Linked DNA regions of Homo sapiens. The protein of the gene in region 1 interacts with the protein of each later gene in a pairwise test. Each region holds a gene or a part of one and is shown in the gene's direction. Other genes may lie near its edges. The genes, in order: INPP5J and DNAJA3.

What was found.
Region 2: the proteins of INPP5J (region 1) and DNAJA3 interact in binary tests that used the Homo sapiens proteins (3 or more experiments, as listed by UniProt).

Annotation. Positions count from the first base shown.
Region 1 is NC_000022.11:31,117,868-31,133,856, forward strand, and holds the start of INPP5J (phosphatidylinositol 4,5-bisphosphate 5-phosphatase A), read left to right. Parts: upstream 1-5,098; 5' UTR 5,099-5,147; coding exon 5,148-5,252; intron 5,253-6,028; exon of another isoform or gene 6,029-6,138; intron 6,139-6,274; exon of another isoform or gene 6,275-6,396; intron 6,397-6,977; coding exon 6,978-8,143; intron 8,144-8,426; exon of another isoform or gene 8,427-8,508; coding exon 8,509-8,622; intron 8,623-8,745; coding exon 8,746-8,854; intron 8,855-9,053; coding exon 9,054-9,170; intron 9,171-9,489; coding exon 9,490-9,665; intron 9,666-9,907; exon of another isoform or gene 9,908-10,083; coding exon 10,084-10,195; intron 10,196-10,346; coding exon 10,347-10,456; intron 10,457-10,603; coding exon 10,604-10,787; intron 10,788-15,230; coding exon 15,231-15,368; intron 15,369-15,538; coding exon 15,539-15,616; intron 15,617-15,742; coding exon 15,743-15,847; intron 15,848-15,989. UniProt on the Homo sapiens protein: Inositol 5-phosphatase, which converts inositol 1,4,5-trisphosphate to inositol 1,4-bisphosphate.
Region 2 is NC_000016.10:4,420,766-4,436,754, forward strand, and holds the start of DNAJA3 (dnaJ homolog subfamily A member 3, mitochondrial), read left to right. Parts: upstream 1-5,102; 5' UTR 5,103-5,116; coding exon 5,117-5,327; intron 5,328-13,618; coding exon 13,619-13,752; intron 13,753-15,989. UniProt on the Homo sapiens protein: Modulates apoptotic signal transduction or effector structures within the mitochondrial matrix. Affect cytochrome C release from the mitochondria and caspase 3 activation, but not caspase 8 activation.

The DNA of each region.
Region 1 (15,989 bases):
TGGTGGATGAAATTATAGGTAAATGTTTTCCTTCTGTGTTTTGTGTAATGGGCATGGATTACCTAAACACAAACAGTAAACTTTATTTACGAAAATAATGGGACATACCCCACTATTTCCTTCTACTCCAACCCCTACCCCAGCAAGGGCCTCAGAGTAACTGAAGCCAGAGGCCCCACGGAGTCGTTCTTGCTGCTGACAGAGCCAAACCCCAGTACCCCATGGGCCCTGGTTGTTTGCTGGACAGATGCCACCAAACCACTCTCATTGCATTAGCCTGGATGCTGTGGCCCCTAAAGGCCACAGCTTGGGCTGCTGAGGGTTGACCAACCAGCCAGTGGAACCAGTGGTGGAGACTGTGACCATAACAGTACCAGGAAGGAACACTGTGGCATCAGCAGCATGAGAAGCCCAAGATCTCCCAAGACAGATCTCTGCCCATAATCCATGCCTCTTATGTGGCAGCATGTAATTTAGGCCAGCAGTCTTCCTCAAGTGGGGCCAAGGTTGGGGATTAGTCTGTGATGGGGTCAGGCTCAGACAGGGTCTAGGTCAGCCCTTAGTTGAGTAGTCTGTAGCCTAGGGCTAGATACAGGGCTCAGTCCATGATTGGGCTTAGTCTTTAGTCTGTGACCAGGAGCCAGGCTCAGTCTGTGACCAGGGTCATGTCTCTGTCAATGACTAAGTTCAGGGCTCAGTCTGTGACCAGATTCAGGGCACAGTCTTCCGTTTAGGGCTCAGTGTGTGACCAGAATTGCATGATCCAGGGTCAGAATTCAGTCTGTGGTCAGAGTTCAGTCAATGATTAGGCTCAGGACTCAGTCTTTGACCAAGATTAGGGCTCAGTCTTCTGCCAGAGTCAGGGTTAAAAGGTTAGTCTGACTCTTCTGCCAGAGTCAGTCTAAAAGGTTAGTCTGGGCTGGGGCTAGAATTCAGTCTGTGACTAAGGCTCAGTCTTAGAGAAGGATAAGGGCTTGATCTGGGCCCAGAACTAAGGTCTCAAGTTGGGATCAGCCTAATTCAGGCTTAGATCAGTATGTGACTAGAGTCAGGGTTCATTCTAAGGTGATGTCAGAGCTCAGTCAAGAGCTGGAGTAGAGGCTTAGTCAATACCAAGAGTCGGGTTCAAGTTGGAGGATCAGGACCATGACCAGGGCTTAATCTGGCTCTATGCTCTGTTCTGAGCTCCAATAAAGAAGCTTCTGGAGGCATAGGAGCCCAGAGCAAGTCAGTCTGCAAGAAATGAGAGCCCCCAGGCAAGCTTAGCAGGGTCTGGTGGCTGCAGGAAGTTTCCCCTGGACTGCTGAGGCCGGGTGTCCTAGAGCCTCTAACCTACATGGCTCTGCTGCTTGAGATCCCCTCGCACCAGAATAAAAATAGCCACTCACTTCAGAGCAGCTGACAGCGGGTGCTGGGCTGCCTAGGAGGAGGGGGAGCCGAAGAGAAGGAGGAGAGAGGCCTGAGCTCAGCCCCAGCTGTGTGACCTTGGGAAAGTCACTCCTCCTCCTCCAGCCCATTTCCTGAGTGGCAGAATGGGGAGTGAGGATGACATCTGCCTCAGAGGGTGAGAATGAAGTGCTGGGGACATAACATGTGAAGCTTGTTACCAACAAGAAACCCTGGAGTGAAGCCTTGGGAGAAGAAATGCTCTTTTGTGCCCTGTATACTTCCTCCTCAGGGAAGCCCTCCCAGATAACCCCTTCTTTCACATTCCCACAATATCCTGTATCACCCTCTACACCTTTGCAGATGGTAGCCATAGCATGACCTCCCTCATGGCGGGCCTGGGTCAGGGTGACCAGGGAGAGAAAGGAAGGAGGACAGACCCTCGGTACCGTTGCCATCCTCAGGTGCCCCTGGAAAGTGAACCGAGGAAGAGGAGGAGGAAAAAGACAGGAAAGACTTCTCTCCCTTCCCTGCTCATGTTTACTCCGAACCAAAGGGCAGGAGGGTACATGTCCAAATTTCTCATCCTTTCACAGCCAGAACCTTCCTTCCCCATCCATGCTTTGTACCTGCTGTTCTCTCTGCTTTCCAGCCAGGGCGTTTCTCTTCTTCGATTTGGCAGCACGGACTCTCCTTCAAAGAAGGGGTTCAACAGTCAGCTCCTCTGTCGGGAAGAATTATCCACTGCCTCTCCAGGAGCTCCATGCTCTGTCCTCTCTCTACTGGCTGTGTAATCCCTGGGCCTCGGTTTCTTCCTCTGTCCAATGGGGGCCTCATTACCAACCTCACAGGGTTACTATGGAGAGTAACTGGGATACTCCATCTATCACTGGCATCCTGCCTTCCTATCCCTGACCCACACAGCCTGAAGGACAGCACTGAGTTTCCAGGAGTGGGCTGGATGAGCCCTGGACCCTGCCTCAGTACGCCCACCCCCCTCCCCCACCAAGAGTGAGGGCAAGGAGGGAGCCAGAAAGGGCCTCCAGAGACAGCCGTCTCCAGGGGGGCGGTTCTCCCTGACAGCTGCCCCCAGCCTGCCGCCCTGAGCCCCAGAGCCTGTTATCAACCTCCTTAGTCATCACACCAGGAGCTCAAATATAGCTCCAACTCACTCCCTTTTCAGCTGGGGTCCGCCCCCTACCCCCTTCTCCTGACAAGACCAGGCTTGGGTCTCAGAGCCCCTTCCTTGTCCTCCCAGGAGAGTAACCACCCTCAGCCTGTTTCAGCATCCACCACATGGGCAGGCTGAAGTCAATGGTGGTGATGATGATGATGATAAATACAGAGCAGCCACCTTTATGGAGAGCTTGCTGTGCCAGGCAGGCTCTATGCTAAACATTTCATATATATTATCCTGTTGAATCTTCACCAGCAAACTTAGGAGGTGTCTGCTGTTTTAATCTCCCTTACACAAATTGGGAATCAGAGTGACCTCCTCAAGTAAGTCAGTGGCAGGGCCAGAAACAAAGTCCCCTGCAGGGTCTGAGCTCAGGGAGCGGGTGGTGGGAAATCCTGGGTTGCCCTCCTGAGGCAGAGGAGCCCTCTGCAGACACATTTGCATGACATTTGCCTGGCTTCCAAAGGGCACTGATGCCCCTGTCCCAGCCCTAGATGGCTGAGCCTTAGGACTGGTCCCAGAGGCCTGGATCTGCCCATCATTCCCTCTAGGATTGCATGAAAAGCTGGGTAGTCTTGGGGGCTCCCATTTTCTTTTTCTTTTTTCTTTTCTTTCTTTCTTTTTTTTTTTTTTTTTGAGACAGGGCCTCTCTCTGTCACCCAGGCTGGAGTGCAGTGGTACGATCTTGGCTCATTGCAACCTCCACCTCCACCTCCCAGGTTCAAACAATTCTCCTGTCTCAGCCTCCCAAGTCGCTGAGACTACAGGCATGTACCACCACACCCGGCTCATTTTTATATTTTTAGTGGAGATGGGGTTTCGCCATGTTGACCAGGCTGGTCTCGAACTCCTGACCTCAGGTGATCTGCCCACCTCAGCCTCCCAAAGTGCTGGGATTACCCGCACTTTGCCAGTACTCCCCCAGCCCGGGGGCTCCCATTTTCTTATTTGTAAAACAGGAGACAGAGGATAAGACAGGATGAGTTCGAATCTTCCTTTTTCTGGTAACCTGAGCATCACCACCAGGTCTACTCTCACATCCTCCCTGACTGTCACCTCCAACTCCAACACTACCTCTTTCATTGACACAACACCATCATCAGTATTGGTATCATCATCACCTCTACCTTTGCCATCACCATCACCTCCACCACCTTCACCACAACCACTGCTAGCCCCCTACTTCCATCATCACAGTTACATACATCATCACATCCATCACCACAGTCGCCTTCCCCGTCACCACTGTCACCATCTCCACTATCGCTGTCCAAAGACCTTTCTACCCCAACACTCTAATATGGCCTGAGTCTCTGCCCCTGCAAATTCCAGCAGAGATGCTGGCCTGAGAATACAGACTAGACCTACTGACAGTCAAGCAGAGGTAGGAAGTGCCTTCAGGAGAGGAAAGTGAGGCATCTGCCTTCATGTAGGAGACTGCACAGGCCCATGCAGATGCTCCATGTTGGTTAACAGGGAGCTCTGCACACACAACTCTGAACACTTTCTGCCTAAAGTGGGTGGGATCACTCCTCTCTAAGCCATGAGAAACAGATCCCACAGCCATCCCAGCCCAATCTGACCCTCATCACCCATTCACTCTTCTAATTCATTTATTCATTCAACAAACACTCCCGTAGGCCTGTTGGGGACCATGTCCTGGGCTGGGTCCTGGCTGTAGCAATTCTCAGGCCTGTTTGTAACTCTCTTGTCAGTCTGTTACCCCACTGCTGGGCCCTTCTCCACCCAAGTTCCCTTCCCCCAGATAGCTCGAAGGGCTTGTGCTCATCCTAGGTCACTAAGTTTTCTCACTGAAACACAGGAGACCTTCTCAGTTCACCAGGTGACCTTGAGCAAGTTCCCCTCCCAAACCACACCCAGTGAATACTGGAGAGAAGAAAGCTGACAGAAGCCGGGCTGGGTTAGGCCTGGCTGTGGGGACATCTGAGGGCAGCTAGGTGTCTGCAGAAGAGGAGGGGCTGGTGCTGAGGCCTGAGATGGGAAAAGACTGCAGTGGCTGGAGCCTGAGTGTCTGGTTCTGGGTTGGGAAGAATAGAGCCTGGGACTGGCAGTAGGAGTGGAGAGGGTGGCACCAAGACCTGAAAATGGGGCAAGGGTGGGGGCCGGGGCAAGCTCTGAGCTGGCAGGGAGCCAGGAAGGTCACAGGATCAGGGCAAGAACTCAGTTGTCTCTGAGGCCCTGGAGAGGGTGCAGACCTCTGAACCACCTGTCCTACCTTAAGGCAGGTGTGTTAATGCCCCTCCCTGGAGCAAAGGGCTGACCAGGCCTACGGCAGAAAGGTGAAGGTAGACAGACAGCCTCCTTCCTGCTGCCAGTTGGGACCTGGGCCAGGCAGATGGGTACACTCTCCCCTCCCCACTCCATGGCTGTTCCAGCCTCAGCAGCCAGTTTGAAGGATTCCCAGGGGGTAGCCACCTTGCTTCGGCCTCTTCCAGGCTGGGAAGTGGGAGCCTGTGCCTTTAAATTCTCAGCAGGTTGAAATGGCTGATGACATCACTGGTTCCCGGGAGCGGTAGAGCTGGAGCCGGAGCCAAGGGAGTCCAGGCTGCCGGGGGCTGCAGACATGGAGGGCCAGAGCAGCAGGGGCAGCAGGAGGCCAGGGACCCGGGCTGGCCTGGGTTCCCTGCCCATGCCCCAGGGTGTTGCCCAAACTGGGGCACCCTCCAAGGTAAGACCCCTGAGACCCAGTGCCCCCCGCTTTCCTGATCCCTGGTTCCACACACCCCCCCCACATACACTGCAGGCTCCCTGGTGCTCCTGACTGAGGGGCTGGTACTTTCCTCTGCTCAGCGAGCAGGGGCTAGGTGAAGAGAGCACCCTGGGGGCTGAGGGGCAGTGACAGGATGCCCGGAGACAGATGAAGTTAGCCATCTCCAGGAGCCCTTGGGAGAGTCCTGGACTGGGTATCAGAGGACCCAGCTGTGCTCCACCTTTGCTGTGTGACCTTGGCCAAGTTGCTTTTCCTCTCTGAGCCAATGCAAAATGAGGGGGCTTGTCGCTGAAGACTAAAACTGTGACATCTGGGATGGCTAAGTTGTTAGTACTGGAGGCGGTGTGATAGTTGGGGGGAAGCCGGCACACAGTGTGACACTTGGAGCCAAGGAGGGTGCCTAAAATGCCACCTCAAAGAACTGAGTTTGAGAAGGGAGGTGGAGATGGAGTTTTAGGTACTCTGAACTGAGAAGGATACGGGACAGAAACAGAAGTGCGTCTCCAGAGGCAGGGCCTCCCTGCGCCCTGTTACCCTACCTAGGGCCATCCTGGGGCAAGTATAGACATTCTTCTGCCCTCCTTGGTGAAGGACACTTTATCCTGTCTTCTGGAGACAGGGGACATCAGAGAGAATAGATGGGGAAGGAGGATAGGTCTCTACAGGACTCCGTGACTCCCCACCCCTCCCACCTGCCGGACATAAATGGGATACCTGCTTGCCTGTCCTTTCAGGTAGGGGAGAAAGTGGAGGATGTAAGAGGGCACAACCTGGGCACAGAGAGATGTGACACCAGGATCAACTTAGAATCCTGGACTTGCTCTGAATGCTAGATTCACACTTGGTGAGGATGGACTATTCAACGGGGCTAGATGGAATTCTAGCAAATGTTGGGCTCATAAATGCAGACAATGGGAGATGAAGATTCCCCAGAATATAATGTGGCCAGGAACCCTAGACCCCATCCCTTCATTTTACAGACAGAGAAACTGAGGCGCTGGGCAGAGAGGTACTTGCCTAAGGTCACACAGAGCTGGGCTTTGAATCTACACAGCCAGTCTCAGCTCCCAGCTCTTGCTCCTGAGTGGAGCTCTGGGAATGGGTAAGAGAACAGAGAGGGCTGTAACCAAGGGATTTGGATGTTTAGGGGGCGGTGGGGAACTGAGGGTTTCTGGGCATTATGAAGGAAGGGAGAGGTATTTAACAAGCTGCACCTGTAGGTCTGTATCTTGACAATAGAAAAAGAAAAGAAACAGGCTGTCCCCAGTGTGCCCAGACCTGGGATGTCAGGTCAGTAGCCGTGGCTGGGGGAGCTTCAGGGACTGCAGTGGGAGGGTTGCCCAGGGAAGCTGCCCCGAATGGGCAGGGTGTGGGTGCCAGCCAGGAAGGCAAGGCAAGTCCTCAGGTTTAGGTTCACACTCTGCCTCATTTGAGTCAGGGTCTGAGTTTCCCCATCTGTGAAAGAGGTTTCAGACTTAAAGGAGGGGTTAGGGTTTTGTGTCCTATCTCCTCCAAGACAGAAGTTGACCTGCAGCAGAATAGATTGAAGTGAGATAGTAGGAAGAACTTCCTTGGAAAGATGTGCCTTTCTTAGCTAGATGAACTCTGCCAGGGTCTATATGGAAGTTGGGGCCCAATGCCCTGGTTAGGGTCACTCTGAATCTTTGACTTGTCCTCCACAAGGTGGACTCAAGTTTTCAGCTCCCAGCAAAGAAGAACGCAGCCCTAGGACCCTCGGAACCAAGGTTGGCTCTGGCACCTGTAGGGCCACGGGCAGCTATGTCAGCTTCCTCGGAAGGACCGAGGCTGGCTCTGGCATCTCCCCGACCAATCCTGGCTCCACTGTGTACCCCTGAAGGGCAGAAAACAGCTACTGCCCACCGCAGCTCCAGCCTGGCCCCAACATCTGTGGGCCAGCTGGTGATGTCTGCCTCAGCTGGACCAAAGCCTCCCCCAGCGACCACAGGCTCAGTTCTGGCTCCGACGTCCCTGGGGCTGGTGATGCCTGCCTCAGCAGGGCCAAGATCTCCCCCAGTCACCCTGGGGCCCAATCTGGCCCCAACCTCCAGAGACCAGAAGCAGGAGCCACCTGCCTCCGTGGGACCCAAGCCAACACTGGCAGCCTCTGGCCTGAGCCTGGCCCTGGCTTCTGAGGAGCAGCCCCCAGAACTCCCCTCCACCCCTTCCCCGGTGCCCAGTCCAGTTCTGTCTCCAACTCAGGAACAGGCCCTGGCTCCAGCATCCACGGCATCAGGCGCAGCCTCTGTGGGACAGACATCAGCTAGAAAGAGGGATGCCCCAGCCCCTAGACCTCTCCCTGCTTCTGAGGGGCATCTCCAGCCTCCAGCTCAGACATCTGGTCCTACAGGCTCCCCACCCTGCATCCAAACCTCCCCAGACCCTCGGCTCTCCCCCTCCTTCCGAGCCCGGCCTGAGGCCCTCCACAGCAGCCCTGAGGATCCTGTTTTGCCACGGCCACCCCAGACCTTGCCCTTGGATGTGGGCCAGGGTCCTTCAGAGCCTGGCACTCACTCCCCTGGACTTCTGTCCCCCACCTTCCGGCCTGGGGCCCCCTCAGGCCAGACTGTGCCCCCACCTCTGCCCAAGCCACCCCGATCACCCAGCCGTTCCCCAAGCCACTCCCCGAATCGCTCTCCCTGTGTTCCCCCAGCCCCTGACATGGCCCTCCCAAGGCTTGGCACACAGAGTACAGGGCCTGGCAGGTGCCTGAGCCCCAACCTTCAGGCCCAAGAAGCCCCAGCCCCAGTCACCACCTCCTCTTCTACATCCACCCTGTCATCCTCCCCTTGGTCAGCTCAGCCTACCTGGAAGAGCGACCCCGGCTTCCGGTGAGGGGGCCCTCTCCCAAGAAAGGTGGCTGGGGCTTAGCTCTGAGGTTAGCCATTCTTCCAGGGTGGATGGTGTGCTCTACCTCAGCTTCTCTCTCTGAGGAAGAGTCTTTGGGGAGGGGGTTGCTGGGCCCACTCTGTGACGCTCAGAAGATAGCATCCCCTCCTAAGGAACTTGCCGCCTCTCAGTTGATCTCCCCAGGGAGAGTGTGGCAGAGGGACAGGATTCGGGGCCTCCTGTGGGTCCTTCTTAGGGCTTTGGCCCACACCTGCCTCCATTTAGTTCCCCAGGGAGTCCTGTGAAAGGAAGCTTGAGGGTGAGGGAGTGGTGCCAGGACTACACCCTCATATGCCCCTGCCCTCAGGATCACTGTGGTCACATGGAACGTGGGCACTGCCATGCCCCCAGACGATGTCACATCCCTCCTCCACCTGGGCGGTGGTGACGACAGCGACGGCGCAGACATGATCGCCATAGGGTGAGGTGGCAGGGCATGTGGACCCCCTCCTGAGCCCCTCGGGCCTTCCGGGCCCTCCACCCATGGCAGGGGCTTCCAGGGCACCTCTCCAATCCCATGGCCACCCTGCCCCCACCCCTCCAGGTTGCAGGAAGTGAACTCCATGCTCAACAAGCGACTCAAGGACGCCCTCTTCACGGACCAGTGGAGTGAGCTGTTCATGGATGCGCTAGGGCCCTTCAACTTCGTGCTGGTAACGCACCCCTCACCCCCTGGACAGCCAGAGACCCTGCTGAATTCCTGGCTCCAGCTGTACCCTGGCTCACTGTGGGGCCCGCTGGGCCTCTGTGGCTGGGTCCGTGACATGGGTGGGTGGAGGAGCAGACCTGAAGGTGGGCGCGAGGGCGGGGGAGTTGTGTTCTGTCCCCCAGCCACGTGGCCTCCCGCTGCAGGTGAGTTCGGTGAGGATGCAGGGTGTCATCCTGCTGCTGTTCGCCAAGTACTACCACCTGCCCTTCCTGCGAGACGTGCAGACCGACTGCACGCGCACTGGCCTGGGCGGCTACTGGGTGAGCCTGTGAGCAGGCCCAGAAGAGGATGGGACATGAAGGGGGCTTTAGATTAGTCCCCCCGCCCCATGCACAGCAAGGTCCCCTTCCCATCCTCCACCCTTTACCCTGCGGCCCAGCCCCCCCATGCACCACCCAATACCCCATCCTATTCCTCTATACCCCCGCCCTTTTCTCTCCCCACTGTGTCCCAGCGTTGTTCCTCATTTCTGTAGGACCCACCCACCTTCCACCCACATCTCCTCTCTAACCCCCGCTCCCAGTGCCTCACCTCCTGGCCTAAGCCCCGCCCATGAGCCATCCGACCCTGCCTCCCTAGGGTAACAAGGGTGGCGTGAGCGTGCGCCTGGCGGCCTTCGGGCACATGCTCTGCTTCCTGAACTGCCACTTGCCTGCGCATATGGACAAGGCGGAGCAGCGCAAAGACAACTTCCAGACCATCCTCAGCCTCCAGCAGTTCCAAGGGCCGGGCGCACAGGGCATCCTGGATCATGAGTATGGGCTGGGGTGGGGCCAAATAGAGCTTGGGTGGGGCTAGTGATGGGGGTTTTTGTACCACCTTGGGTGGGGCTTATGGAGAGAGGCAGGGCCTATGGGGTTTAGTGCCCACCCAAACTAGTTGTAGGAACACGAAAGCAGAGAGCAGTTGGATGGGGAGGGGCGGAGCTTGTAGGGTGGAGCTTTGCTGAGGGGCCCCGCCTTGCTGAAGGTCAGAACCTAATTTCCTGTAGACCGGTCCCTCTGCTTTTCCTCTGCCCTTTGGTGGGCTGGAGGCTCTGGCACCACTCACCCACTCACTACATCCCCTCGGGTTGGATGGGCTGGAAGGATCTGGGCTGAGCCCTTATCCTCCATGGACCTGTTGACACCCCCCACTGCCCCCCACATCTCTCCCATCCCCCACCCCAAACAGCCTCGTGTTCTGGTTCGGGGACCTGAACTTCCGCATTGAGAGCTATGACCTGCACTTTGTCAAGTTTGCCATCGACAGTGACCAGCTCCATCAGCTCTGGGAGAAGGACCAGGTGGGGTCCTTGTCCCCAGAAGCACACAGAGCATGTCCCAGGACACGCCTGTACCTTAGACTATGGTCCCTGTCCTCACCTGCCCCACCCCCTCCCTGGGCACAGCAGAGCCCAAGCTGTTGTCCAATCTGCTCTCCTGGACCCCCCACAGCTCAACATGGCCAAGAACACCTGGCCCATTCTGAAGGGCTTTCAGGAGGGGCCCCTCAACTTCGCTCCCACCTTCAAGTTTGATGTGGGTACCAACAAATACGATACCAGGTGAGCTCAGTCCGAGGAGGGACTGAGGGGAAGTGGGCTGAGGTCTTCTCGAACAGGGAGACTTTGGGAAGAGGGGCAGGAGGCAAGGTGGAGGGTTACATCTTGATCCCCAGCCCCTGAAACTTGGGGTACCCCTGCTCACTGCAGTGCCAAGAAACGGAAGCCAGCTTGGACAGACCGTATCCTATGGAAGGTCAAGGCTCCAGGTGGGGGTCCCAGCCCCTCAGGACGGAAGAGCCACCGACTCCAGGTGACGCAGCACAGCTACCGCAGCCACATGGAATACACAGTCAGCGACCACAAGCCTGTGGCTGCCCAGTTCCTCCTGCAGGTGAGTTCTGGCCTCATCCTCCCCGCATGAAATCCCCAGGCCCAACTCGGCATACCACTGCCCCTCACCATTACCCTTTGTATAACCCCTTGTACCTGCCCTCAGCAGCATCCATTTGTTGTAACAGTGGAAATGGGGTTGCAATCTACATTTTCAGATGAGGAAGCTGAGGCTCAGACACATGGCATCACCTGCCCAGGGTCACCCAACTAGTAAGAGGAACAGTTAGGATTTGAACCCAAGTGAGTCTGGTTTCAGAGCCCATGCCTTTTCTTTTTTTTTTTTTTTTTTTTTTTGAGACAGAGTCTCATTCTGTCACCCAGGCTGGAGTGCAGTGGCACGATCTTAGCTCACTGCAAGCTCCGCCTCCCGGGTTCAAGTGATTCTCCTGCCTCAGCCTCCTGAGTAGCTGGGATTACATCACCCGCCACCACGCCAGGCTAATTTTTGTATTTTTAGTGGAGACAGGGTTTCACCATGTTGGCCAGGCTGGTCTTGAACTCCTGACCTCCTGATCCACCCACCTTGGCCTCCCAAAGTGCTGGGATTACAGGCGTGAGCTACCGTGTCTGGCCAACTTTTTTTTTTTTTTTTTTTTTCTTTGAGACGGAGTCTTGCTCAGCCGCCCCAGGCTGGAGTGCAGTGGCACAATCTTGGCTCACTGCAACCACCATCTCCTGGGTCCAAGCGATTCTCCCGTCTCAGCCTCCCAAGTAGCTGGGATTACAGGCACCCGCCGTCATGCCCGGCTAATTTTTGTATTTTAGTAGAGACAGGGTTTCACCGTGTTGGCCAGGCTGGTCTTGAACTGCTGACCTCAGGTGATCCACCCACCTCAGCCTCCCAAAGTGCTAAGATTACAGGCATGAGCCACTGTGCCCGGCGCCCTTTTTTTTTTTTTTTTTTTTTAATGCAGTCTCACTCTGTTGCCCAGGCTGGAGTGCAGTGGCGTGGTCTCGGCTCACTGCAACCTCTACCTCCTGGGTTCAAGTGATTCTCCTGCCTCAGCCTCCTGAGTAACTGGGATTACAGCTGCCCGCCACCACGCCTGGCTAATTTTTGTATTTAGTAGAGATGGGGTTTTGCCATGTTGGCCAGGCTGGTCTCGAACTCCTGACCTCCGGTGATCTGCCCACCTCGGCCTCCCAAAGTGCTGGGATTACAAGGTGTGAGCCACCACACCCAGCCTTAGAGCCCGTGCCTTTTCTGCTAATCTCTAACTCCTGTCTTCTGAGAAAGGTTTAGAGTAATTTATCTTAAAATTCATTTATAGGCTGGCGCAGTGGCTCACACCTGTAATCTCAACACTTTGAGAGGCTGAGGTGGAAGGATCACTTCAGCTCAGGAGTTTAAGACCGGCCTGAGCAACACAGTGAGACACTGTCTTTAAAAAAAATCAAAAAAAGGCCGAGCGCAGTGGCTCACGCCTGTAATCCCAGCACTTTGGGAGGCTGATGTGGGCGGATCACATGAGGCCAGGAGTTTGAGACCAGCCTGGCCAACATGGCGAAACCCATCTCTACTAAAAATACAAAAATTAGCCTGGCGCAGTGGTGCATGCCTGTAATCCCAGTTGCTTGGGAGGCTGAGGCACAAGAATCACTTGAACCTGGGAGGCAGAGGTTGCAGTGAGCCAGTATCGTGCCACTGCACTCCAGCCTGGGTGACATGAGCAAGACTGTGTCTCAGGGAAAAAATAAAAATAAAAATAAAATTTAGCTAGGTGGTGCACACCTGTATTCCCAGCTATTTATGAGGCTGAGGTGGGAAGATCACTGGAGCTTGGAAGATCTAGTCTGCTGTGAGCTGTGATCGTACCACTGCACTCCAGCCCAGGCAACAGAGCAAGACCTTGTCTCAAAAAAAAAAAAAAATTCACATATGCATCATCATTTTCACTACTAGTGTCTTAAAAATAACAAAGAAAAGATATAAAAATTCACATATATAATAAGACCAGCAAAATCAAACTCCATGTAACATTCATTCATATTCATTCATTCGTTATTTACTGAGTACTTAACTGTCTTACCATATGCCAAGCATTATGAGAGTGTGTAGTGATGGGGAGGGAGAGCAAAGATATAAAAAATACAAAGCTGAACTCTTAAGTAGTTACTATAATTTATATTGTATTTAGGATTGAGGTTCCTGGTTGCCGACATCAAAATGGGAAATCCTAGAATCTCAGAACCAGACCTGTGAGACCAATTTGGCCCACTCCCTTTTTTTCTGTGGCGGGATCTGAGGCTCCTCATGGGGTAGGCACATGCCCCAAACCATACACAGGCTCTGCAGTGGCAGAGCAGGGTAGATCCCATCTTTTCAGCCCTGAAACCCAACTCTGGGCTCTTCAAGTCTCTTGATCTGATAAGAGGGAGCCCAGCAGGCCAGAAAATGTTTTTCCTGGTAACTTTGTCACATGGCCAGTCAGTGGGACATTGGCCAATATCTTTAGCTGGGAATGGAAATATCCCCACGCTTGGCCTGCCATGACCTCTGGCAAAAGTGTTGGGCATGAAGATTTAACCCACAATTAGGGACCTCACCTGAAAAATCACTCCTTTTGACACCCCATCCTGTCCTTCCCACCTCCTCCAGGACTCTGTCCCTTTAAAAACATTTCCCAACCAGGTGCAGTGGCTCACGCCTGTAATCCCAGCACTTTGGGAGGCTGAGGCAGACGGATCACTAGGTCAGGAGTTCGAGACCAGCCTGGCCAACACAGTGAAACCCTCTCTCTACTAAAAATACAAAAATTACCTGGGTGTGGTGGTGCGCACCTGTAGTCCTAGCTACTCGGGAGGCTGAGGTAGAGGAATTGCTTGAACCCGGGAGGCGGAGGTTGCAGTGAGTTGAGATGGCACCACTGCACTCCAGCCTGGGCTACAGAGCGAGACTCTGTCTCAAAAAAAAAAAAAAAATTCCCATTGAGTACCTACTACATGCCAGGCCTGTGTAGTGCACTTTACATATGTCATCCTTTTGAATGCCTCAGTAGGCCCTGAGATGTCCCAGTTTTCCTCTCTGTTTTACTGGTGAGGGAAACTGAGGCTCAGAGAACTTAAGTCTCTTAGCCAAGGCAATGCAGTCAGAATAGGGCTCAGTAGGGGTTTTGATGCTGCAAGGCCTTGGAGGGCATTTTCAAAGGTCTACCCTTGCCCGCCCCTGCTGTTAGGAACACAGGAACAGGGAAAGAATGTGCCAGTTACTTCTGGAACAGATTGGCTCGGAAGCTGAGGGAGGGAAACCTGAAACTAGGTAAACAGGGGATCAGACAAAGATCTGGTGTTGGCAACAACTCAGTCCTTCCCTGAGGGACAGAGGTGGGGTCAATATCCTGGCAGCCTGCCACCTCAGCAGCTCCACCCATTCAGGTGGCGCCCCTGGTGGGTCTGGGTTGACCTTGGGGAAAGGATACTCGTGGTTATAACTTTCCTTCATGGACTGATGACAAGGTAATAGTTAGTAACCGCTTAGTACTTAGACTCAGTTGGAGAAACTGAACCTTGGGATGGTTAGAGCCTGCCCTGGGGTAACATAGCGAGTTAGCAGTAGAGCCTGGAAGTGGACTGAGGTCTCCATCCTCCCACGCAGAGCTCTTCTTGCCTGCTCAGGAATATTCAGCTTACCCCAAATACCCAGTGCATCATAGGATTTTATTGGTCTTCCTTGCTAGCATAGAGACAAATCATTTATTGAGCACTTACTGGTATACTGGGAAATTTATGGGATGCTTTGCAAATGGTGTCTCACTGAATCTGCTGAACAACTCCAAGAGTAAAATAAGAGTCTCTGAGTTTGGCCGGGCACGGTGGCTCATGCCTATAATCCCAGCACTTTGGGAGGCTGAGGTGGGTGGATCATTTGAGGTCAGGAGTTCAAGAACAGCCTGGCCAACATGGTGAAACGCTGCCTCTACTAAAAATACAAAAATTAGCCAGGCGTGATGGCGGTACCTGTGGTCTCAGCTACTGGGGAGGCTGAGACAGGAGAATCACTTGAACCCGGGAGGTGGAGGTTGCAGTGAGCCGAGATTGCACCACTGCACTCCAGCCTGGGTGACAGAGCGAGACTCCATCTCAGAAAAAGAAAAAAAAAAAAAAGAGTCTCTGAGTTTACAGATGAGGGCCCTGGCATTCAGAGAGGCTGAGGAACTCACCCAGCCTGTCAACGGCAGAACCAGAGCCAAATCCAGGATTTGCTAGCTTCAAAGCTATGTTCTCACTCACTCCCTAAGGAGGCTGTGGGCAGAAGGAACCCTGGGCTGGGAGGCAGCACAGGGCTTGGTATTTATACTAGACCTGTTCTGCCTCAGTTTCCCAGTCTGTAAAGTGGCCCTTTGTCTCAGGCAATTTGTGCTAAGACCCAAGAGCCTTAAGTGTGTGGGATACTAGAGGGTCTCCCCTGATGTGGCCCCCTGCCCCTGCCTTGCCTGGACAGTTTGCCTTCAGGGACGACATGCCACTGGTGCGGCTGGAGGTGGCAGATGAGTGGGTGCGGCCCGAGCAGGCGGTGGTGAGGTACCGCATGGAAACAGTGTTCGCCCGCAGCTCCTGGGACTGGATCGGCTTATACCGGGTGAGAGGGGCAGTGGTGGTCAGCGACTCAGGGAAGAAAGGGGCCTGGAGGAGCAGCTGAACAGCATGGTGGGGTCACTGGCTTGTCCAGATCTTGATGCCACACTGGGAGACTGCTGGGATCAGACATTATAGGGTCACAACACTGATTCCACAACACTGATCCCCCAGGTGGGTTTCCGCCATTGCAAGGACTATGTGGCTTATGTCTGGGCCAAACATGAAGATGTGGATGGGAATACCTACCAGGTACTTAAAAGGAGTGGGAGAGTCAGGGCAAGTCCTTGTTGCCTTTGGGACCTCAGAACTCACCTTGGGGGCTCTCAGGTGGCCTCCCTGACCCCCAACTTAGGCTTATACCCCTGGGCCTACCAGGTAACATTCAGTGAGGAATCACTGCCCAAGGGCCATGGAGACTTCATCCTGGGCTACTATAGTCACAACCACAGCATCCTCATCGGCATCACTGAACCCTTCCAGGTAAGTAGGCCAGACTGCTGGGCTGGGGGTGCCTAAAGACTTTTGTCAAATGCCACAGCCTCTACATTCTGCTCCTTGAGTTCAGACAAATAACCTGACCTCCCAAGATCTGCCAACGAGAGAGGCAGACCTCGGGAGGTCA
Region 2 (15,989 bases), on another chromosome or scaffold:
ATACTTGAAAGTTGTTCTTCTCAACCAGCAGCATCCCCCCAACCCCCATTTCTCCTAAGTTTTGGGCTCCCCGTGAGTAAGTAACTCTGTCTGAGTTCTTAGTATCCTCAGTGCTTAGTACAGCCTGGCACATGGGGCCAACACAGATTGAGCAATGGCTACGCATCAAGTACTATAGGAAGCCTTTACATGATTATGTCACTCAGATGACCCTTTGAGGACATTACTATTTTTTGTTTTGCTTTATTTTGAGACAGAGTCTTGCTGTGTTGTGCAGGCTGGAATGCAGTGGCGTGATCTCGGCTCACTGCAACCTCCGCCTCCCAGGTTCAAGTGATTCTCCTGCCTCAGTCTCCCCAGTAACTGGGACTACAGGTGCGCGCCACCACGCCTGGTGAAATTTTTTTTTTTTTTTTTTTTGAGGAAGAGTCTCACTGTTGCCCAGGCTGGAGTGCAGTGGTGCAATCTCAGCTCACTGCAGCCTCCACCCCCTGGGTTCAAGTGATTCCCATGCCTCAGCCTCCAAAGTAGCTGGGATTATAGGCACGTGCCGCTGTGCCCGGCTCATTTTTGTATTTTTGTAGTGACAGGGTTTCACCAAGTGGCCCAGGCTGGTCTTGAACTCCTGACCTCAGGTGATCCACCTGCCTCGGCCTCCCAAAGTGCTAGGATTACAGGCGTGAGCCACCACACCCGGCAATTTTTGTACTCTTTAGTACAGATGGGGTTTCACCATGTTGGCCAGGCTGCTCTTGAACCTCAGGTGATCCCCCCACCTCGGCCTCCCAAAGTGCTGAGATTACAGGCGTGAGCCACCACGCCTGGCCGACGTCGTTACTATTAAGTCCTCATTTATTTATTTGACATATGGTCTCCATTTGTCACCCAGGCTGGAGTGCGGTGGCACAATCATGGCCCATTGCAGCCTCAGCCTCCCAGACTCAAGCAATCCTCCCACCTCAGCCTCTCAAAATGCTGGGATTACAGGTGTGAGCCACCGTGCCTGGCCTATGTCCCCATTCTAGAGAAAAGGAAACAGAAGAACAGAGTGAAGTAAGTTGCCCAAGGACACACAGCTGGTAAGTGGCACAGCTAGAATTCAATCCCAGGCTGTCTGACTCCAGAGCTATACTCTTTTTTTTTTTTTTTTTTTTTTTTTTTTTGAGAAAGTGTCTTGCTCTGTTGCTCAGGCTGCAATGCAGTGGCACTATCATAGCTCACTGTAGACTTGAACTCCTGGACTGAAGTGGTCCTCCCACCTTGGCCTCCCAAATAACTGGGACCACAAGCATGCGCCACCATGCCCGGCCAATTAAAAAATTTTTTTTTGTAAAGATGAGGTCTTGCTATGTTGCCAAGGCTGGTCTTGAACTTCTGGGCCCAAGTGATTCTCCTGCCTTGGCCTCCCAAGGTGCAGGGATTGACAGGCATGAGCCACCATGCCTAGCACAGAACCCATACTCTTTTTCTCTTTATTTTTGAGACAGAGCCTCACTCTGTCGCCCAGGCTGGAGTGCAGTGCCGCAATCTTGGCTCACTGCAACCTCCATCTCCTTGATTCAAGCAATTCTCCTGCCTCAGCCTCCCGAGTAGCTGGGATTATAGGCGCCTACCATCACGCCCGGCTAACTTTTGTATTTTCAGTAGAGACGAGGTTTCTCCATGTTGGCCAGGCTAGTCTCCAACACCTGACCTCAGGTGATCCGCCCGCCTCAGCCTCCCAAAATGCTAGGATTACAGGTGTGAGCCACCGCGCCTGGCCACAGAACCCATACTCTTTTTTTGTTTGAGACGGAGTTTTGATCTTGTTGCCCAGGCTGGAGTGCAGTGGCGCGATCTTGGTTCACTGCAACCTCTGCCTTCTGGGTTCAAGCGATTTTCCTGCCTCAGCCTCCCCAGTAGCTGGAAATACAGGCATGTGCCACCATACCTGGCTAATTTTTGTATTTTTAGTAGAGACGGGGTTTAACTATGTTGGCCAGACTGGTCTTGAACTCCTGACGCTGTGATCTGCCCTCCTCGGCCTCCCAGAGCGCTGGGATTACAGGCATGAGCCACCGCGCCCAGTCAGAACCCGTATCTTTTTTTTTTGAGACAAAGTCTCACTCTGTCACCCAGGCTGGAGTACAGTGGCACTATCTCAGCTCACTGCAACCTCCGCCTCCCGGGTTCAAGCAATTCTCCTGCCTCAGCCTCCCGAGTAGCTGGGATTACAGGCGCCTGCCACCATTCCCGGCTAATTTTTGTATTTTTAGTAGAGACAGGGTTTCATCGTGTTGGCCAGGCTGGTCTTGAACTCCTGACCTCAGGTGATCCGCCCGCCTCAGCCTCCCAGAGTGCTGGGATTACAGGCGTGAGCCATTGTGCCTGGCCCAGAACCCATACTCTTCATCACTATGCTGGTCATTTAAGTATTTGCTGAATGTATTAAAGGAACTCTTGCTCACCTCCCAACACCCTTGTTCATCTCAGTCCTCCCCATTCCGTAGCCCAAACTCTCTCCAACTATTACTTGCAATTTACAATAGCTTGGTCACTGTTCTTCAAAGGACTGGTGGTTTTATTTATTTATTTATTATTATTATTTTTTTTTGAGAGGGAGTTTCACTCTTGTTGCCCAGGCTGGAGTGCAATGGCGCGATCTCGGCTCACCGCAACCTCCGCCTCCTGGGTTCAAGCAATTCTCCTGCCTCAGCTTCCCGAGTAGCTGGGATTACAGGCATGCGCCACCACATCCAGCTAATTTTGTATTTTTAGTAGAGACAGGGTTTCTCCATGTTGGTCAGGCTAGTCTCGAACTGCTGACCTTAGGTGATCCGCCTGCCTCAGCCTCCCAGAGTGCTGGGATTACAGGCGTGAGCCACCGTGCCTGGCAGGACCGGTGGTTTTTAATCTTCGAGTCTCAATGCCTGTGGAGAATTTGACGAAAGCTATGGGTATCTACCCAAATTAACATCCACGTACACAAAAATTTGGTGTACAATGCTGGGAGTAGCGGGGAGGGGGAGTAGCACAGATTCCCAGGCTTTGGGGATGGGGGTGAAGATTTATGAGCACAGTTTGTTTTAAATCCAAACAAGAATCCTCAGGTTTTTTCCCCATTGCTTGAGGTGGTTATGATGGTGGGAGTGTGAAAATTGAAAGTCCTTTGCAAGACTAACCAGGTCAGGTCTCCCTTCCTAGCCTCATCTCATCACATACTTTTTTTTTTTGAGACAGAGTTTCGCTCTTTTTGCCCAGGCTGGAGTGCAATGGCGTGATCTCGGCTCACTGCAACCTCCACCTTCCGGGTTCAAGCCATTCTCCTGCCTCAGCCTCCGGAGTAGCTGGGATTACAGGCATGCGCCACCACGCCCGGCTAATTTTGTATTTTTAGTAGAGACGGGGTTTCTCCATGTTGGTCAGGCTGGTCTCGAACTCCGGACCTCAGGTGATCCGCCCGCCTCGGCCTCCCAAAGTGCTGGGATTACAGGCGTGAGCCACTGCGCCCGGCCACCACTTCTTTTCTTTTTTTTTTTTTTTTTGAGATGGAGTTTCTCTTGCCCAGGCTGGAGTGCAGTGGCGCGATCTTGGCTCACTGCAACCTCCGCCTCCTGGGTTCAAGCGAGTCTCCTGCCTCAGCCTCCCGAGGAGCTGGGATTACAGGTGCGTGCTACCATGACTGGCTAATTTTTGTATTTTTCGTAGAGACGGGGTTTCACCATGTTGGCCAGGCTGGTCTGGCACTCCTGACCTCGTGATCCGCCGGCACCTCGGCCTCCCAAAATGCTGGAATTACAGGCGTGAGTCACCGCGACCGGCCTCATCACATACTCTTAAATTTAGGGTTTAAGCAAAGAAGGCAAACACTTTCATATCTTAGACATTTGTTTCTTAAGTTCAGGCTACTTGGAATACTCCATCCCTACCTGACACACTTTTCATCGATGTTCAGTTTGAATCTTACCTCTTAGAAGCCCTGACATCCCAAACTTCCTCTCTCCCATTTTAGAAATGGAATGACTCCTTCACCTTGTATGACTGTAACAGTGCTTATTCCTGTGATAGCATTTAACATTGTTAGTTGCTAAGGAGCCTCTCTCGAGTCATTGTTTGCTCCTCCCGAACAGGGATGGTGTATCAGGCATCACTGTATCCCCGATATTCTAGAACATGCATGACACACAGTAGGCGCTCACAAGTTTTACTAATTTAGTTTTTGGGCAGCACGGCTCCCATTCGGAACCAGCAAGTTCACTGCAGGTTTGGAGAAGGCTAACACGCTTAAGGAGAGAGCTGAGGTCGGCGCGGTGGCTCTCGCCTGTAATCCCAGCACTCTGGGAGGCCGAGACGGGTGGATCACGAGGTCAGGAGTTCAAGACCCAGCCTGGCCAAGATGGTGAAACCCCGTCTCTACTAAAAATACAAAAAAATTAGCCGGGCGCGGTGGCGCGCGCCTGTAATCCCTGCTACTCGGGAGACTGAGGCAGAGAATTGCTTGAACCCGGGAGGAGGAGGTTGCAGTGAGTTGAGATCGCGCCACTGCACTCCAGCCTGGCGACAGAGCGAGACTCTCTGTCAAAAAAAAAAAAAAGAAAAAAAGGAGAACTGAGTCTTGTTAGAGGAGGCGGGTGGGGAATCAGCCTAAGAGACAGTGAGACTGCGGCCAGGATTCTGAGGGTGGCGACGAAGATTTACTAGAAGCGCGCGGAGACGGCATGAGTAAAACTCACGCAATTCGTCGTAAGTCTCAGGGTCAGCAGGAGGAAACCACGCACTACATGCTGGGAGCGGCGCGACGGAGGACCGCGTTGTATGCTGGGACTTGTAGTCTCGCCCTTAGCCAGACCCCTCGGACCACTTAAGTTCGGCTACATTCAACCACGTCCTTACACCGATAACGTACACCCATTGGTTGTCTAGCACAGAATAGCGAGGTTCTGCACGGCGAGTCTACCTAACAACACTCTTCAGAGCAAACCCCGTTTCGGCGATGGCTACCCGGAAGGCGCGTTGGCTGCGGCTACGCGTACGGTGCGCCTGCGCGTGCGCGACGCATGCGCCTCTACGCGCGCCCGCCGTTCCCGCGAGGCCCACCTAGAGCCGGGCGGCGCAGGCGCAGAGTCCCCGGGCCAAGATGGCTGCGCGGTGCTCCACACGCTGGTTGCTGGTGGTTGTGGGGACCCCGCGGCTGCCGGCTATATCGGGTAGAGGGGCCCGGCCGCCCAGGGAGGGCGTGGTGGGGGCATGGCTGAGCCGCAAGCTGAGCGTCCCCGCCTTTGCGTCTTCCCTGACCTCTTGCGGCCCCCGAGCGCTGCTGACATTGAGACCTGGTGTCAGCCTTACAGGTGAGGGCAGGTTCCAACTTCCGAGTGGCGGTTTCAGGGCCTAGAAAAGAGTGAGTCTCCTCGCTGTGACTACGGCTGCAGGGGTAGTGGGGTGGAGGGTGTCTTCCGACGCGGATGCACAATTGCCGGAGACACAGACAGGCAGGAGGCGGGGAGGCCCCAGTGGCTGCTCAGCCGTCAAGGAAGGGAGAGAAGCGTGGAGCCCCCGGCGGCGGTGATGAAACGCCCCGTAGATCGTGAACCTTCACCTCTCTGTCAACATTTCTGGAGGCCGCTGCTCCCTCGTCCTCTTCCTTTCCCATCTCTCCACCTTCTAGCCCGTAGCGGAAGGGAAGAGCTAACTGCCATTCGGAGAGGCCTAGGTACTTTGTTACAACAACCCTGCAAGATGCCTGCCGTCATCACCATTTTAAAGAATGAGAAACTGAGATTCAACGGAGGAATCGACCAGCCCAAGGTCATGGAGTTAGACTAGAAGAGTTGTCTCAAACCCAAAGCAGTCATGTCATAGTTTACGCTCTTTCTACCACGTGGTGCTAATTGAAGGGCACAGTTAACAATCTTTTTAGAAGTCTTTAGTTGGTGATTGTAATAATAACACAGTCAGACATTTATTGAGCACTTACTGTTGGCCAGGCATGGTTTTCCCCTTACATCACATTTCCACATGATAGGCACTGTTATTCCATTTTATAAAGATACTGAGGCTTAGATGTTAAACCACTTATAAATGTCACAAGGAGGTGGAGGCTTGATATCATTGCCTGAGATGACACTGAATTATACATTAAGCCTTGAAGTGCTTAGTCATGTTTTCTTTTCTTTTCTTTTCTTTTTTTTTTTGAAACTGAATCTTGCTCTGTTGCCCAGGCCGGAGTGCAGTGGCTCAATCTCGACTCACTGCAACCTCCGACTCCTGGGTTCAAGAGATTATCCTGCCTCAGCCTCCCCAGTAGCTGGAACTAGAGGCATGCGCCACCACGCCTGGCCAATTTTTGTATCTTTAATAGAGACGGGATTTCGCCATGTTGGCCAGGCTGGTCTCAAACTCCAGACCTCAGGTGATCCGCCTCCCCTTGGCTTCCCAAAGTGCTGGGATTACAGGCGTGAACCACCGTGCCCTGCTTAGCCTTCTTTTCTTATGCCGTGTGTTTTGTGCTGTGTGTTGTACGTACCTGAATTGTGCTAGTTTTGTGTCCTCTAGAATTTGTGCAAATGGTATTTAAGCTATCTATAAATTTATAAAGATTAATTAAAGGGCCCTGACAAGATAATTTATACCAACTAACTTCCTGTTGCAATCCAGTTTGTAATAGTTACATAGTAGACAATCATTAAAGTATCAGTAATTGTGGTTACTTCATGCAATGTAAAGAAAAGAGCCTGGGCTTCAGGGGTGAACTTCCCCAGCGTCTGTGAGCGGGGTGTATTATTTAACCCCTTCGAGCACCTGTCTGAAAATTCATTCATTCACAGGTGTTAATTGAGGCCAATTGTATGCCAGCCACTGTTCTGGGCACTGAGGAGATGGCAGAGAACAAAGAGATTGGATGTGTGTTTGGTTAAGAGAATGATTATTTATGTATTTAATTATTTTTTAAGACAGGGCCTCCTGTTGCCCAGACTGGTGCAGAGGCACAATTACAACTCAGTGCAACCTTGACCTCCCAGGTTCAATCGATCCTCCATCCTCAGCCTCCTGAGTAGCTGGGACTACAGGCATGCACCACCACACCCAGCTAGTTTTCTGTAGATGGGGTTTCACCATGTTACCCAGGCTGGGCTAAAGTGATTCCCTTGCTTCAGCTTCCCAAAGTGCTGGGGTTACAGGCATCAGCCACTGCACCTGGCCAACAGAATGAATTTTTTTTTTTTTTGAGACGGAGTCTCGCTGTGTTGCCCAGGCTGGAGTGCAGTGGCGCTATCTCAGCTCACTGCAAGCTCCGCCTCCCGGGTTCACGCCATTCTCCTGCCTCAGCCTTCTGAGTAGCTGGGACTACAGGCGCCCGCCACCACGCCCAGCTAATTTTTTGTATTTTTAGTAGAGACAGGGTTTCACCGTGTTAGCCAAGATGGTCTCGATCTCCTGAACTTGTGATCCACCCGCCTCAGCCTCCCAAAGTGCTGGAATTACAGGCTTGAGCCACCGCGACCGGCCTTATTTTTATTTTGAGATGGACTCTTGCTCTGTTGCCCAGGCCAAATTGCAGTGATGTGATCCTGGCTCACTTCAGCCTCCCAAGATGCTGGGCTTATAGGTGTGTGCCACCATGCCAGGCTAGATTTTTCAACATGAGCAAAAGTGGCCATTTTTAGAGCTTGCTAACATTTTCTAATGTCAAGGTTGTTTTAAATAGAATCTGGCTGCATCTTTTCATTCAAATATTAATCCTTAGGTGACTTGTTTTATTAAGCCAAATTTGTTCATGTTCCAGCTGTACAAATTTGGGAGCACTCGTTATTATTGTGTATGTGAAAGAGAGAAACAGGCACTAAACACTAAGCTTTGTGTGAAGCTGTGACTAAGGAACTGCGGTTAGCTGTCTTGTTCCCCAAGTGAGCTCATAACCTGCCATGGGCAAGTTTTATATCAGGTAGTGTACACAGGTGAGAGGTGGCATCCTTCAGGGTACGTGCTGTTTTCACAGATAGAGTCATCAACTGGTTGGGCGGGGTGGCTCACGACTGTAATTCCAGCGCTATGCTGGCGCTGAGGCAGGAGGATCACATGAGCCTAGCAGTTTGGGACCAGCCTGGGCAACATAGGCAGATCCCATCTCTACAAAAAGATTTTTTTTTTTTTTTTTTTTTTTTGAGACGGAGTCTCACTCTGTCGCCCAGGCTGGAGTGCAGTGGCACGATCTCGGCTCACTGCAAACTCCGCCTCCCGGGTTCAGGCCATTCTCCTGCCTCAGCCTCCCGAGTAGCTGGGACTACAGGCACCTGCAACCGCGCCCAGCTAATTTTTTGTATTTTTAGTAGAGATGGAGTTTCACTGTGTTAGCCAGGACGTCTCGATCTCCTGACCTCGTGATCCACCCGCCTCCGCCTCCCAAAGTGCTGGGATTACAGGTGTGAGCCACCGCGCCCGGCCAAGATTTTTTTTGTTTGTTTGTTTGAGACGGAGTCTTGCTCTGTAGCCAGGCTGGAGTGCAGTGGTGCGATCTCGGCTCACCATGATCTTGACTCACCGTGATCTCGGCTCACCGCATCCTCCGCTTCCTGGGTTCAAGTGATCCTCTTGCCTCAGTCTCCTGAGTAGCTGGGACTACAGGCACGTGCCACCACTCCCAGTTAATTTTTGTATTTTTAGCAGATACTGGATTTCACCATATTGGCCAGGATGGTCTCGATCTCTTTACCCATGATCTGTCCACCTCAGCCTCCTAAAGTGCTGGGATTACAGGTGTGAGTCACCGCGCCCGGCCTACAAAAAGATTTTTAAAAATTAGCTGACTGTGGCCGGACATGGTGGCTCACGCCTGTAATCCCAGCACTTTGGGAGGCCTATGCGGGCGGATCACCTGAAGTCAGGAGTTTGAGACCAGCCTGATCAACATGGAGAAACCCCGTCTCTACAAAAAATACAAAATTAGCCAGGCCTGGTGGCGCATGCCTGTAAACCCGGGTACTCGGGAGGCTGGGGCAGGAGAATTGCTTGAACGTGAAAGTCGGAGGTTGCCGTGAGCCGAGTTAGCGCCATTGCACTCCAGCCTGATCAACAAGAGCGAAACTGTGTCTCAAAAAAAAAAAAATTAGCCAACTATGGTGGCAACTGCCTGTACTCCCAGCTGCTTGGGAGGCTGAGGTGGGAGTTTCACTTGAGCCCAGAAGGTTGAGGCTGCAGTGAGCCATGATGATGCCACTGCACTCCAGCCTGGGCAACAGAGTATGACTCTTTCTCTACCAAAAAATTAATAAAGTCATCAACTGAGAAGCCATGTGGTGGCGAGCCTCTATAGTCCTAGCTACTCAGGAGGTTGAGGTGGGAGGATTGCTGGAGTCCAGGAATTTGAATTTGGCCTAGGCAACATAATGAGACCCCTGTCTCTTAAAAAAAAAAATTTTGAAAAGGTCATTAACTCAGCGTCCAAACACTAGTCTGTGATCTTGTCTCAAATCTAGTAGTAAGATGACATAACAACATTTTAGATGTGACTTTTCTTCCAAGCAGAAAGAAAGCAGTTGTTGGTGGCCAGGTATGGTGGCTCATGCCTGCAATCCCATTACTTTGGGAGGTGGGTTGATCGCCTGAGGTCAGGAGTTTGAGACCAGCCTGGCCAAGATGGCCAAAGCTTGTCTCTACTAAAAATAGAAAAAGTTGGTCAGGCGTGGTGGCGGGTTCCTGTAATCCCAGCTACTCGGGAGGCTGAGACAGGAGAATCGCTTGAACCCAGGAGGCAGAGGTTGCAGTGAGCCGAGATCGCGCCACTGCCCTCCAGCCTGGGCAACAAGAGCCAAACTCCCTGTCAAAAAAAAAAAAAAAGAAAGCAGTTGTTGGACAGTGGGTTGGCCATTCTTAGAACGACTTGGAGGCTTATTTTATTCTGGGTTGTTCTAAAAAGGACAGGACATTTACTGGTCATATGTGATAAAATAAATAGTCTATTAAATGAAATCTAATTATTGTTAATCATTGATGCCCTATGGATAATGTCAAAAGTCATCAGACTGGGGATGGTGGCTCATGCCTGTAACCCCAGCACTTTGGTAGGATGAGGCCGGCGGATCACTTGAGGTCAGGAGTTCGAGACCAGCCTGGCCAACATGGTGAAACTTCTTACCTACTAAAAATACAAAAATTAGCCAGGTGTGGTGGTGTGCGCCTATAGTCCTGGCTACTTGAGAGGCTAAAGCAGAAGAATCGCTCGAACCTGGGAGATGGAGGTTGCAGTGAACCGAGATCACACCACTGCACTCCAGCCTGGGTGACAGAGTGAGACTCTGTCTCAAAAAAAGAAAAAACAAAGCCATCAGTCTTGTAATTAAACGTGATTTGTCTTTATCCACATGCAGTTTTGTGCGTTACTATCTCTGTACTAACTCCTGTCCGTGTTCTCTGCCCGTAATGTTGAAGCCACAGCTGCCACAGGTCACTACCAGCCTCCGCCTTGTGGCATTGGAATGAGTGGTGAGAGAGAGGCTGGACTGGGCCGGGCAACCCCTTACTCCGAAATAAAAAGAGGGTTGAGTACAAGTTCAATAATAAGTCAGGTCTAGTGTTTTCTCAAGTCTGACTGAAGAAACACAAAGTGGTCTCCTGACCCCTACTACTTCCAGTGTGCTTTTTGTATCCCGAGGATATTGGGTGTGCCAAACACACGGATTTATTTCCTATTTCTAATTTTAAGTATCCTGACCATTCCTATCCATTCTCCTGTCTGATCATCCTTTACCTGGCCTCCTACTTGGATGTGCTCAACCAACCTCTGGTTGTGTTTTGTGCTGATTAACTTCGAGTAGTCTCCCAGGCTTCCTAGAGTTGTTTCTCTTTTTTTTTTTTCAGGTGGAGTCTTGCTCTGTCGCCCAGGCTGGAGTGCAATGGCGCGATCTTGGCTCACTGCAACCTCAGCCTCCCAGGTTCAAACAATTCTCATGCCTCAGCCTCCCAAGTAGCTGGGATTACAGGCGTGCACCACCATGACCGGCTAATTTTTGTATTTTTAGTAGAGACAAGATTTCACCATGTTGGCCAGCTTGGTCTCGAACTCCTGACCTCAAGTGATCCACCCGCCTCGGCCTCCCAAAGTGCTGGGATTACAATAGGCGTGAGCCACCTTGCCTGGCCTAGAGTTGTTTCTCATGCAAACCTAATGGGTTCTTTGTTTAACATTTGCAGTGGCTCCCTATTGCTCTTAGGATAAAATCCAGACTCCTTAGCATAGCTCTAAGGCCCTTCCTATTCCTAGGCCCCATTAATCGTTATCATCTCTAACCACCACTACCACCACTGCCATCTAGTTTAGTTATAGGTATAAATCTGTATGGATTCAAAGTCCTCTTTAGCCTATTTCTGTCTCTCTCTCTTTTTTTTCCATGTCATAAGTTTATTTACAAACATCTAGTATGTCATATAAGTTCAAGTCTTTGATCCATTTATTTATTTATTTTTAATAGAGACAGGGTCTCTGTGTTGCCCAGGCTGGTTTCGAACTCCTGGGCTCAAGCGATCCTCACGCCTCAGGTTCCCAAAGTGCTGGGATTACAGGCGAGAGCCACTGTGCCCAGGCTTATTTTTCTTTCTTTTTTTTTTTCTTTTTTTTTTCTGTGATGGAGTTTCACTCCTGTTGCCCAGGCTGGAGTGCAATGGCGCGATCTTGGCTCACTGCAACCTCTGCCCCCCAGGTTCAAGCGATTCTCTTGCTTCAGCCTCCTTACTAGCTGGGATTACAGGCATGTACCACCACATCCGGCTAATTTTGTATTTTTAGTAGAGATGGGGTTTCTCCATGTTGGTCAGGCTGGTCTCTAACTCCTGACCTCAGGTGATCCGCCCGCCTTGGCCTCCCAAAGTGCTGGGATTACAGGCAGGAGCCACCATACCCGGCCCGGCTTATTCACTTTTTAAACAGATTTCATCTATTAAAACACCTCCAGTCTGGGCGTGGTGGCACACGCCTGTAGTCCCAGTTACTTGGGAGGCTGAGGCAGGAGAGTCGCTTGAACCCAGCAGGCGGAGGTTGCAGTGAGCCAAAATCGCACCACTGCACGCCAGTCTGGGCAAGAAGAGCGAAACTCCGTCTCAAAAAACAAAGAAACAAAAAGCCTGCCGGGCACGGTGGCTCACGCCGGTAATCCCAGCACTTTGGGAGGTCGAGGCAGGCGGATCATGAGGTCAGGAGATCGAGACCATCCTGGCTAACACGGCGAAACCCCGTCTCTACTAAAAATATGAAAAAATTAGCCGAGTGTGGTGGCAGGCGCCCGTAGTCCCAGCTACTTGGGAGGCTGAGGCAGGAGAATGGCGTGAACCCGGGAAGTGGAGCTTGCAGTGAGCCAGGATGGCGCCACTGCACTCCAGCCTGGGCGACAGAGCGAGACTCCATCTCAAAAAACAAAAAACCTGCTCTTCCTATCTGTTAAGTGGATGAACTAAAACATCCTTGTTTCTTAAGCAGTTGGTGTCTTGCTATTAAAAAAGGTGCTGTGAATCCAGATCCAAAGTACAAAGTCATCCTAGTTAGTAACCGCCATTTGTTTTCCACTGAAAGTGGCAAATGCTTTCCTGGGCAGCTTAGCCAGTTTCTGCAGCTTAACAGCTGATGCCTAGAAGTTCTTCCCCGACCTTCTTAGATTGATTTGTCATTGGTTCTCAGCAGGGGACACTTTTACTTCCCAGGGGACATTTGGCAATGCCTGGAGACGGGGAGTTCTCTACTGGCATCTAGTGGGTGGAGACCTCCTGAGTTTCTGGTGAATGTCTGGAGTAGGGCTTGAACATCTGTGTTTTCATCAGTCTAATGATGCTGTTGGTCCAGGGAGCGCAGTCTTGAGAACTGCTCCTTAAGTAGATACCCAAGGCTGCAAGATAGAGGGAAAAGAATGTGGGGAGTTGTTAAGCATTAAATGTGACAGAAAAATATGAAAATATGAAAATACCTAGCAAATGGTAAGTGCTCATGTGGCATAAGAGGGGGGAGCTGAATCCCTTTTTAATCATCTCCCAGTCAGGAGTATTATTCCTTTAGTGGTTTACTGAGACCACTCCAGTAGTATAAGCGAGGAGAATCAGCCTCATCCAATACTCTGACATAGTTTAATATTAATTGAATACTGTGGCTTCCTTAGCCATTATTGAAGTGCATTAGGGAACAGCCCTAAAGCTGTAGCCTGTGTATTAGTCTGTTCTCATGCAGCTAATAAAGACATACCTAAGACTGGGTAAATTTTAAAGGAAAGAGGTTTATTTAACTCACAGTTCAGCACGGCTGGGGAGGCCTCAGCGATCGTGGCGGAAGGGGAAGCAAACACATCCTTCTTAACATGGCAGCAGGAAGAATGAGCAAAAGGGTGAGCCCCTCATAAAACTATCAGATCTCATGAGAACTTACTATCGCGAGACCAGCATGGAGGTAACCGCTCCTGTGATTCAGTTACCTCCCATCAGGTCCCTCCCATGACACGTGGGGATTATGGGAACTAAAATTCTAGTTGAGATCTGGGTGGGGACACAGCCAAACCTTATCAGTTTGTTTGTTCCTTCACAGATATAGCCTGGTGGGTCATGTACTCACAGTTTTCTTTTGTTGAGAACATTCCCAGAGTGATTTTCTTTGTTTTTTCCTTTTTAGGAACAAAACATAACCCTTTCATTTGTACTGCCTCCTTCCACACGAGTGCCCCTTTGGCCAAAGAAGATTATTATCAGATATTAGGAGTGCCTCGAAATGCCAGCCAGAAAGAGATCAAGAAAGCCTATTATCAGGTCTGTATGGAAGTCAGGTTTTGGTGACCAAATTGTAGTAGGAATGTTGTTGATCCCATGTGATCCTGATCAGTACAGCGTATGTGCCCATATGAATAGGTCTCATGAGCTGATAGTATAGAAGGGTGTGATAAAGCTGGACTTTGCTAGACTGTTTTTCGATGCACAATGCTGTAGAGGTTGGTGCTTCAGAAAAAAGAGGTGAGTCCAAACCAGAGATTTTAAGAAGTTTTTTTTTCTAGAGCTGTTTTCATAATTAAATTTAATCTGTATTTTCTGAATCAGTAGATATGCTAGTCTAAGTTTTAGGTAGTTATTTTTTGCATCCAGATAAAAGTTTAGAGGTTTAGAATTACTTCCTTTCCTTTCTTTTTTTTTTTTTTTTTTTTTTTTTTTTGAGATGGAGTCTCACTCCATTGCTGAGGCTGGAGTGCAGTGGCGCAATCTTGGCTCACTGCAACCTCTGCCTCCTGGGTTCAAGCAGTTCTCCTGTGTCCGCCTCCCAAGTAGCTGGGACTATAGGCACCTGCCACCACACCCGGCTAATTTTTTTTGTATTTTTAGTAGAGACGCGGTTTCACTTTGTTGGTCAGGCTGGTCTTAAACTCCTGACCTCAGGTGATCCACCTGCCTCAGCCTCCCAAAGTGCTGGGATTACAGGCGTGAGCCACCGCGCCTGGCCCTTTCTTAACCTGGAAAATGTGAAATTCCCATTGTATCCCAGGGTCTATTAGGGTAGTTAGGGTAGCTGAGTAAAGTTGTATACGAGATGTCTACACCACTGGTTCCTAGACCCTTGGTTTGCTCTGACCAACAAAATAAAATCAATATTGGAGGCACCATTGTAGGATTGACAGCTTTTTATAAGTGCACAGTTCACTGGAGTTGTGCACCTGTCACCACAGTCAACTTTAGGACATTTTCATTACCTCGAAAAGAAACTCTGTATTCATTAGCACTCCCCTTCCATTGTCCTCTCTCCCCGGTCCCTAGCAGCTGCTAATCTGCGTCCTGCCTCTTTGGATTTGCCTATTCTCAATATTCATATACAGGGAATCATACAATATGTATCCTTTTGTGTGTCTTGGCTTCTTTCATTCACATAATGTTTTCAGGGTTCATCTGTGTTATAGTTTGTGTCAATACTTCATCCCTTTTTATGGTCAAATAATCTGTTGCATGGATTAATCACATTTTGTTTATTCATCGTTTGATGGACATTTGGATATTTTCCACTTTTTGCTATCATGAACAGTGCTGCTATATAGACATTCATATGTAAGTTTTTGTGTAGACATGTTTTCAGTTCTCTTGGATATTTAGGAGTATAGTTGCTGAGTCATATGGTAACTGGATGTTTAACCTTTTGAGAAGCTGCCAGCCTTTTTCAAAGCAGCTGCACCATTTTACATTCCCACCAGCAGCATATGAGGGCCATGATTTCTCCACATCCCAGTGAACACTTAACTATTATCGTCTGTCTTTTTAATTACGACCCTAGTGAATAAGAAATGCTATCTCGTTAGAGTTTCGATTTGCTTTTTCCCTGATGACTAATGATGGTGAGCATCTTTCTTGTGCATGTTGGCTATTAGTATGTCTTTGGAGAAACGTGTGTTTGGATCCATTGCCCACTTTTAACTGGGTTGTCTTTTTTTTTTAATTGGGTTGTAATGGAATGAACAGAGGCATGGGGACAGGAAGCAGAGATCCTGGCCTGTGAAGAGCGAATGGCCTGTCTCTTCCTGAGCTCAAGAGTCAGGTGCCTGATCCAAGAGTGGGAAAAGATTGAAAAGATGGAGGCTGGGTTGGACTCACATGACAGTTGATTTGAGGCCCTTAGTAAGTCCCAGAGACATAATTTAAGAGAAAGACTTAATTTAGAGAACCATTCAGATTTTTAGGCACGGAAGTAAAAAGATCAGGTAAAGCTGTAGCAATTACTGTATTTTATTTACCTACAAAAATAATTGAAACAGCAGAGACGTCTATTTATTCAGTCATTTTCTTCCCTTTTTAAAAATTTTTTCTTTTTTCAGACAGAGTCTCGCCGTGTGGCTCAGGCTGGAGTGCAGTGGTGCAGTCTTGGCTCACTGCAACCTCTGTCTCCTGGGCTCAAGCAATTCTCCTGCCTCAGCCTCCCGAGTACCTGTGTTTATAGGCGCGTGTGACCATACCTGGCTAATTTTTGTATTTTTAGTAGAGATGGGGTTTCGCCATGTTGGCCAGGCTGTTCT